2 separate regions of the Homo sapiens genome follow, and region 1 is linked to region 2. Evidence: fine-mapped expression QTL. A gene starts in region 2. The other region holds a variant in brackets. All regions are shown on one strand. Distances are from middle to middle.

Region 1 (4,531 bases), 140 kb after region 2:
GTGTCATATTTTAGGAATTTTTCTTAACCTTAGCAATGAGAGCCTAAAATACATACATGGATTATTTTTCTTCTAGGAAGTAAATTTCCTGCTGCTTTAAATGATATGTAAAATATCAATAATTTTTACACTTAAGATGTTGGTAAGACCTAGTTTTCTAATCTCTCTAGCACTGTGATGTCTCCTTGTAGATAATCTGGACCTTGCTTAGTCCTTTAGTTGGGAAACAGAATCAGGGCATAGAGCAGAAGAGAGCTTGACACTCCATATGGTCCTGGTTCTGCTACCCATTAGCGATTAGTGAGGAGACCTTTAGGGAGTCCACTGTGCCCTGTGTGTCACCACATTTTCTTCTGTGAAATCAAGATTAAAGAACAGATGACTTTCAAGGTCTTTTTCAGTTTTATAACTGTGAGTCTATGTATTAGGTATTTATTTTCAACAAATGACTTTAAAATGTCGAATGCAAACCATTCCCACTTGGAGTGTTTTATTTTTCAATCATCATCATTGCCCCCAACTCCCCACATGTATGTGTTGTGGCATCCAGAGTGAGAAAAGACAATTTATGAGTTGATGAATCTGGGCCTTATTTCTATTTCCATTTTGAAGAATAACTTGTCATAGAAGCCTCTGCAGTTTAACAGAAGGAGCCACATATTGGGAGTCACGAGTTCATCTCTGTGGGTTAATAGTTCCATGACACGGAGTACGTAGCTCAGCTTTTCAGGGGTTCAGTTGCCCCACTATGGATAGCGGTGTGGTATTTGGTACTTGTGAGGGCTCAATTAGATAAAACATATGATAGCTTTTTGTAAACTGTAAAAGGCTATACAAAAGTATGAATTATTATAATAATTATGGTTTTTTATGTCTGGATTACAGTATCAACACAAAAGTATTGGCTGATACTGTGGTTTGTGTTGTAAAATGAAAGAAGTGTAGAAATTCAAATACCTTACTGTGTATTCATGTGTTTGATGTTGACAGTAGGCTACCCAGGTTATATGAACCTGCTCCTGCCGTTCCCTGCCACATGGACCTGTATCAAGCAGTGTGTGGCTTGTTTTCTTCAAGGTACTGATTCTTGACCAACACTGAGGATGTATATCCAATGAAAGATAGATATCAATGGCGGTAGATATCAATGTGTTATTAGTAATACAACTTTAGGTACAGACAAAATAGAAAATAAAATTAACTGTCATTATAATTAGTAGTGGAAAATACATTAAAAATTATTTGTGTATAGCTTTGGAAAAAAGTTTTCCAAAAAAAGCTTTTTGGAAAAAAGCTCTTAGAAGAGCTTTGGTAACATTATTTTTGAAAGCGCACACTCACATTGTGACTGTGGGTATACTGAGCATATATTCTTACATTGTTACTGTGAGAAGCTGCAAGTCAGTGCTGCAAGTCAGTAACAAATTCTCTTTTGGGGATAAAATGAAACAGTTTTAAGCTTAGAGTGGCCATTTTTATTTTAACTCTGCATTACTAAACAAATATAAAAGAAATTCATCTCCATTTAAAAATCTTTTTTGTTATTTATATTTTGTTTTATTTTTGTTTCCTATTCTTTATGCAGTTACCTGATACTATGGACAGTATATCCAGTGGATCTTTTAGTACTGTAATATCAAAATGCTACAAATATTTATGTTTCCTGCTATGTTCAAGATATTGTAGTGGCACCAACTTCTTGGGCATCAGCTAATATTGCATTTTGGAGTCATTAGGGTGTTCTGTGAAGAATGAATACTGAAGTGACAGTTTTATCTAGTTTTTTGAGGGGCATTTATGATGGGGTTGGGTTGCCATTGTGTCTGACAGTGCAATTCATGTAGTTCCTGGCATAATTGCCTTTTTTTTTTCCTTAATGGAGAGGCAGGGTTCTGATTGGTGCTGTATAAATTTAAGTAACTTTGTGCTTTGTAGGAATGGTGACAAGGAAGGCATGATTTCCCCCTGACAAGGAATGAAAGGTGAACTGTATCAGCTCTTATCTGGACATATATGTTAATGTTTTCTATGCTCCCTGATACAAGAAGTTTCCAAGTTATATAGGAAAATTAAGTCCATTGATCCTGTCTTTATCCTCAGAGGGCAGAAATGAGACAAGTGGATAAAGGCTGTAGGAAGCTGAATTCCAGATTAATCAGTGCCGAGGAAGATTTTTCATTATCGGAAAACCCAACAGTCTAAAATCAATAACCAGTTCTTCTGCAAAGGGGTGAGTTTAAGCAGGGCTAATGTGACTGTCATTTCTGCCTGTCCTGCAAGCTTAGACTAGTTGAACTTTGAGGTCACTCTATGATTCTTTTATTAGGGCTTCAAATCAGCAGGGAGTGTGTAAAGAAAAAATGCTCCCCCCCTACCATTTCAAATAAAAGTGAATGTTTTCTCTTTCAAAGCTACTATTAGAGGTAGTTGTGATAGACACTAACAATCCCCGGTGTTAATACTTTCCACTCCTTTTATTTTATTTTAATTTAATATTATTTTATTGAGACAGAGTCTCGCTCTGTCACCCAGGCTGGAGTGCAGTGGCGTAATCTCTGCTCACTGCAAGCTCCTCCTCCCAGGTTCACGCCATTCTCCTGCCTCAGCCTCCCGAGTAGCTGGGACTACAGGCGCCCGCCACCAC[G/A]CCTGGCTAATTTTTTGTATTTTGAGTAGAGACGGGGTTTCACCGTGTTAGCCAGGATGGTCTCGATCTCCTGAACTCGTGATCCACTCCTTTTTAAAGTGAGTCTAGTCTGTTGATCTTCATAAATAGGAGGGTTTTCCTCCAGCTTGGACATTAAAAATAATTTTTAAAAAGATCTTTGTGGCTAACTGGAAAATCTTCTGGAATTATCTAATGCTTCATTCATTTCCCTCCATTTCTGTTTTTTTTTTTTGTATTTATACTCTGCATATTTAGAAATCTTAAATTCAAATACATTTAGTTAAAATGAGTTGACGAAGACTCCAGTGATGTTTTAATACCCTAAGATTTTGTGATTCCTTGGGCCTGGAATGGATCTTAGAAAATTACCTTGCCCTCATGAGCCTGTAAACCGTGTTGTTTCCCCTCAGTCTTGCTCTGTCCAGTACAGTAGCCCCTCGCCACACATGGCTGCGGAGCACCCGGAATGGCTTACAGCACATGTGGGAATGGTGCTGAATGCTGAGGAAGCATTCACTCATACGTGCTGCACTTCTTAAAGGCCTCCCAATAGCCTGCTTTGCGGAGTTCTGGCTTTTACTTGCTGTCTACTATGATCACCTGATTTGTGCTTCACATACATATCTGTGAAGTTTGCTTTTTCTATTTAAAGTGCCCTTAAACTTTCATTTGATCGTGTTTATCTGCAGATGGTCAGTGTCATTGGCATATTTGAACATTATTCTGCCCTCCCTCCGCCAAACTCCTTATGTACTAGATTAAGAAATTTTATTTTTGAGATGATGATTTTAATTTGATTTTACAGACATTCTTTTTTACAAAGTACAGTTGTTAGAGTTATAGAAGAGTGATTCACATCTTTGAGAAGATAGATTTCATGATTAATATATATATTTTTTGAGACAGAGTTTCGCTCTTGTTGCCCAGGCTGGAGTGCAATTGCACGATCTAGGCTCACTGCAACCTCTGCCTCCCAGGTTCAAGCAATTCTCCTGCCTCAGCCTCCCAAGTAGCTGGGATTACAGGCATGTGCCACCATGCCCAGCTAATTTTGTATTTTTAGTAGAGATGGGGTTTCTCCATGTTGGTCAGTCTGGTCTCGAACTCCCAACTTCAGGTGATCTGGCCGCCTTGGCCTCCCAAAGTGCTGGGATTACAGGCGTGAGCCACCATGCCTGGCCCAATATTTTCTAAGATAAAATTATTCTGAGAAATCTAGTGGAATCTTTTCCATTGCTTTGTTATTAATGTTTCAACACTGACTTTCTCAACTAGGCCAGTATTACTATTTAAAGGTTTTTAGAGGCTGGCAATGGTGGCTCACGCCTGTAATCCTAAAACTTTGGGAAGCCAAAGTTGGGGGGCGTCACTTGGGACCAGGGGTTTGAGGCCAGCCTGGGCAATACAGTGAGAACCTGTCTTTACAAAAAAAAAAAAAAAAAAAAAAATGAGCCGTGCATGGTGGAGTGCACTTGTAGTCCTAGCTACTAGGGAGACTTAGGTGGGATAATTGCTTGATCCCAGGAGTTTGAGGCTACAGTGAGCTAAGATCATGCCACTGCACTCCACCCCAGGTGACAGAGTGAGACCCTGTCTCAAAAAAAAAAAAAAAAAAAAAAAAAATATATATATATATATATATATATATATATATATATATATATATATAAAATAAAGGTTTGTGGACACATGTTACCCATTTAGAGAATAATTTATTTTTGAATGTGTATGATACCTAAGTGATATGCATATATATAATTAAGACATTTTAAATCTCTTCAGATATTTCTTCATAAGATACATGTATCTATAGATAGCTATATACAAAACTACTTACAAATAATAAATAGACATTGTTTTATACAG
Region 2 (4,252 bases):
GGGATTACAGGCATGAGCCACTGCACCTGGAGCTTTTTTATTGAGTACCTGCACTGATGAATAAGATAGTGCCTCCTTCTAAGCAATTTACAGATTAGTGGGAACCCAGGAGGCGGAGGTTGCAGTGAGCCAAGATCGAGCCATTGCACTCCAGCCTGGGAGATGAGAGTGAAACTGTCTCTCAAAAAAAAAAAGTATTATTATTTAGAAATTGGGTCTTGCTATGTTGCTCAGGCTAGTCTCGAACTCCTAAACTCAAGTTAGCCTCCTTCCTCAGTCTCCCAGTGCTGTAATCCCATACAGGCGTGAGCCACCACACCTAGCCTGTGTCAGCTAGTTTTTTTAAAACAGCTTTACTAAGATATAATTTACATAATCATAAGTTCCACCTATTGTAAGTACACAATTCAAGGATTTTTAGACAATTCAGAGAGTTGAGCAACCATCACACGATCTAACCCATTTTTTCAATGTTTCTGCTGTAGAAACCATTTTATTATTCTAGTACAAAAGTACATGCCAAGCCATTAAAATTGTACAGCAAGTATTAAGGATGCAAAGTGACTCACTGAAAATGTATGTAATGGACTTGCACAGACAACTGCTCTACTGACACAGAAAGAAAGAGAGGGAGGGTGGCTAGAGCCAGTACAGTACAAAGCAATGGTTATCAGCTAGGCCCTAGAGTTAGACTGCTGGGGTTCAGATGCTGGCATCCCTACTTACTTAACTGCTGTCTGGCCTCAGGCATATTACTTGAACTCTCTGAGCCTCAGTTTACTCATCTGAAAGAGAACAGCACCCTACTTTATGGGGTTATGAAGAATAAATGAAATACTATATGCAAGAGGTTCAGTAGAGTCCTGGCACATAGTAAGGACTCAAGAACTATTAGCTGTTTTTACAGTTATCACTGGATGACTATTAAATAGCCTTTCATGAGCCAGACATGGAAGACCACATGCTCTAATTAAATTTATATGAAATTCTAGAGAAGGCAAATCGATGTTGATAGCAGATCAGTGATTGACAGAGGCTAGGGAGCGGAGGTAGGAAATTGACAGCAAAGGGTCACAGAAAACTTTTCAGGATGTTCTATATTATGACTGGGATGCTTTGTAAACACTTGTCACTGAATCACACATTTAACTTGGTGCATTTTTCTGTATGTAAAGTAAATCTGACCTCTCTCCCCCAAACTCTTAAAGATCTAGCTTTTAATTTTCCAGTTATTTTACATGTCAGAAGCAAGGTTCAGTTTCTAAACTCAGCCAACAAATATCTGTTGAGCACCTACGATGTGCAAGACACTGTTCTGGGTGTTGGGGATACAGTCTTGAAGAGGACAGATAGCATCCTACCCCCATGGAGTTTATAGTTCAAGCACGAATTATACACCTATGTTTGGAGTTACAAAATACAGGATGCTATGGGGAGAATACACTGTCCGGGTAGGGGGAAGTAGAGGAGTTCCAATATGTATAAATCTCTGTCCCGCGTTTTTTTCTATTTTTTGAACACAGAAGCAAGCAGAGTCCTTCCACCTACAGTCCAGGTGGGTGGTGTGTCAGAGGCCTCTCGGGGACCAGTGACCGTGACCCAAGGCTGCCCTCAGGCCACACCATCTGCGAGATGCGGTGGCCACCTGGCGAGGGAAAAGGACTGGCACCGGACCAAAGACCAGGTGGATGCTTCCACGGACCCCAGGTGGGGCGCTGCTTTGACCTTGGCTTCGTCATGCCCGCGCTCTCTAGCTTCTTTCCAGGTGTGCCCAGCCACCGCAGAGAACAGGCGGCAGGAAAGCTTAGGAAACCCTCCCAGAGGGCGTGCCAGACCGGGAAACTTTATCTGGGAGGTGACTCCACCCACTTGGGCGGGGCTGCCGCCCGCTGGGGGCCGGGCAAGTGGCCCGGCCAGCGGCGCGGCGTCCGGGGAGGAAATGGATGCTGTGCTGGCCTGCCGGCTCCGGGGGCGGGGAAATCGAGTAGCTGCACTCAGGCCCCGCCCGAGACCCGGAGGGAGCGCCGGGCCGTCCCCTTTTGCCCTCCTTTGCGCTGGGCTGAGCCCAGAGCCGAGAGCAGGAGTCGGCTCTGAGTTCCCTGCTTGGTTTTTGGGTGGCAGCAGCCAGAGGAGGAATATGGCGCTCTTAGGCAGCCGAGCGGAGCTGGAAGCGGACGAGGTACGATCCGATGGGGATTGCGGGCCCGGCCCCTGAAGCCCTGGACAGGAGTCCGGGAGAGAAGAGTGAGCCCGGCTAGGACGGCCGAGGCCCCGCCCCCTTGGTCCCCTCTCTGGGGTGGGCTGGCGGGCGCCGGGTGGGGGCGCCCGGCCTTGGTAGGTCTGTCCCCGCTGGAGCTAGGAGGGTCCCTGCGGCGCGCGGAGCGGACGCAGTGCCGAGGTTCGGAGCGCCGGCCCCGCGAGTCGTGGGGATGGAGGACCCACGTCCTGCCAGCACTTGGATGGGCGTGAGGGCGCGGGACCATAGGACCCGCAGCTCTGAGCTGTTCCGGGCCGGCCCAGCGACGCCTGGGCTTTACGAAGTCTGACCCTGAAGTCCTGGCACTGGCTCTCTGGGTGTTCGTGGAATCATCCCTCGACCTGGGAATCTCACCTTCTATGGAAGTTTCCTGGTGGCAGAACCGAAAGGCTTACGATTGATGAAAAGAGGGGGCAGCCTGAGGAACAATGAGTAGAGGGGTACCTGCCGCGACAGCAGGGCAGGGCTGCCAGGGGCTGGGGCTGGAGGGCTAGAGCCGCAGCCCAGGCTGTGGTGCTTCCCTCTCCCTCCACGGGGCCGGGACACTTCCCCTAGCAGGTCCTCAGAGTCGGTGGTGGCCGGAGGGAAACCACTTTGAGAACCGACTCCGGCCTCCTTTGGTTTCAACTGTGTTTGAGTAATTAGCCACTCCTTCAGTCGTGGCGCGCCCGGGCCTGAGCACCCAGGGGCTAGCGCGCCGGACCTGTTGATTTATTGACTATTCATTTCAGCACCTGGCAACTCCAGAGACAGCGCTCTCCCTGCTCTTGAAGTTGAGACCGAGGCTCCAGCAGCAGCCAGCACCCACAGCTGCTGTTCCTGCCATCTTACCTGACTTGAATTGTGCGAGTCGCTGCCTTTAGAAGGCTTTGGTTTCAAATGATGCAATAGTGGACGATCTGGAGGAGGCGGTTAAGTTTCCCGTCCATCTCTTTAGTGCCAGGAATCTCCTGACAAGGAAGACTATACTTTAAATGTGCTCCGTAAAATAAACAAAAAACAAAAACTGAACTACAGCTCCTCTGCATGACAGAGAGACAAGAGGGCAAGCCGGGCTGTCCAGACCCTTGCTTACAGCCTGTCCCTTGCATTGAGGATCCCAAGACTGTAGAATGAAATATTTGAATCCCGATCTGTTTGTAGGAGATTTGCTGTGCTTAGAACTATGTAATTCTCTAGATTAGGGCATTGTTGAGGCGGTGCTATTATTAATTAACACTGGGATAATAGGTGTAAACTGGGACTGTTTCGGAGATACTTTGACAAATGGTCACCCCAGCTATGCTCACTGCCTACTAGATGAACGGTTGAGATGCATTAGCCGATGAGGAGGGAAGTTAGGTTTCTGTGGGTGAAACTCTGGGTGGAAGTTAGGTTTCAGAGTAGCAGAGAGCCTGGCACACAGATACTTGGTAAATAAATATTTGTTGAATGAATGAAAGACTGCAGAAAAGATGTTGCTTAATAACAACTCAGTTTTTGCCATATCATTCATTTATTTTTCTTCATTCATTAACTATTAGGCTTCTGTTACATGCTAGGTACTGTACTAGTCCTAGTTGATGAGCAAAATACAAATTGAATTCTTTGTTCATGCCAAATTTACTTTTGTCCCTCACAGTTTACCACTTCCATTGCTATAAACTGAGCAAGCGTTTATTGAGCATTTACTTTGGGCTCAAACTTGGTAGGTGCCTTAGAGAAGGCATAGTTTTGCCTCTTTATGGTTCTCAGTCTGATTAGGGAGATATGACCTGGGTACAAGAACTCTAAAAAGGAGCTCAAGTAAATGTAAGCAAGTAAGAAGTAGTGTGTTGTAGACTGGATACCCTTGATTTATTTGTAGAAAGTCCCTTACCGTAAATGGGCTTGAAGAACTCTAACCTCGAGTTCATAAGACCCTGCTCTTCAATTTTACTGGGTGCGCAAATAGCTTATTTCAGCTAGGAAGCTTTTCACGTATTTAAGAAGAGTCTGATAGTCTTTATTTGATAT

What was found. PIP is the estimated chance that this variant, and not a neighbour inherited with it, causes the effect. A credible set is the group of variants that fine-mapping cannot tell apart.
Region 1: its variant is the best candidate, but not a certain one, in a credible set for the expression of TTC39B in whole blood (INTERVAL, PIP 0.56).

Annotation. Positions count from the first base shown.
Region 1 is chr9:15,166,786-15,171,316 of GRCh38, reverse strand. It overlaps TTC39B (tetratricopeptide repeat domain 39B), which reads left to right. Exons shown (of 20, transcript NM_152574.3): 20 at 1-4,531. Among named protein-coding and RNA genes, the nearest start is that of TTC39B, 140 kb to the left of the region's middle. The variant G/A (reference allele first, on the strand shown) is at 2,645.
Region 2 is chr9:15,305,011-15,309,262 of GRCh38, reverse strand. TTC39B (tetratricopeptide repeat domain 39B) reads left to right here and starts at 2,047. Exons shown (of 20, transcript NM_152574.3): 1 at 2,047-2,179. The coding sequence starts at 2,138. RefSeq lists silencers at 1,793-2,132, 2,163-2,482 and enhancers at 1,720-2,282, 2,846-3,409.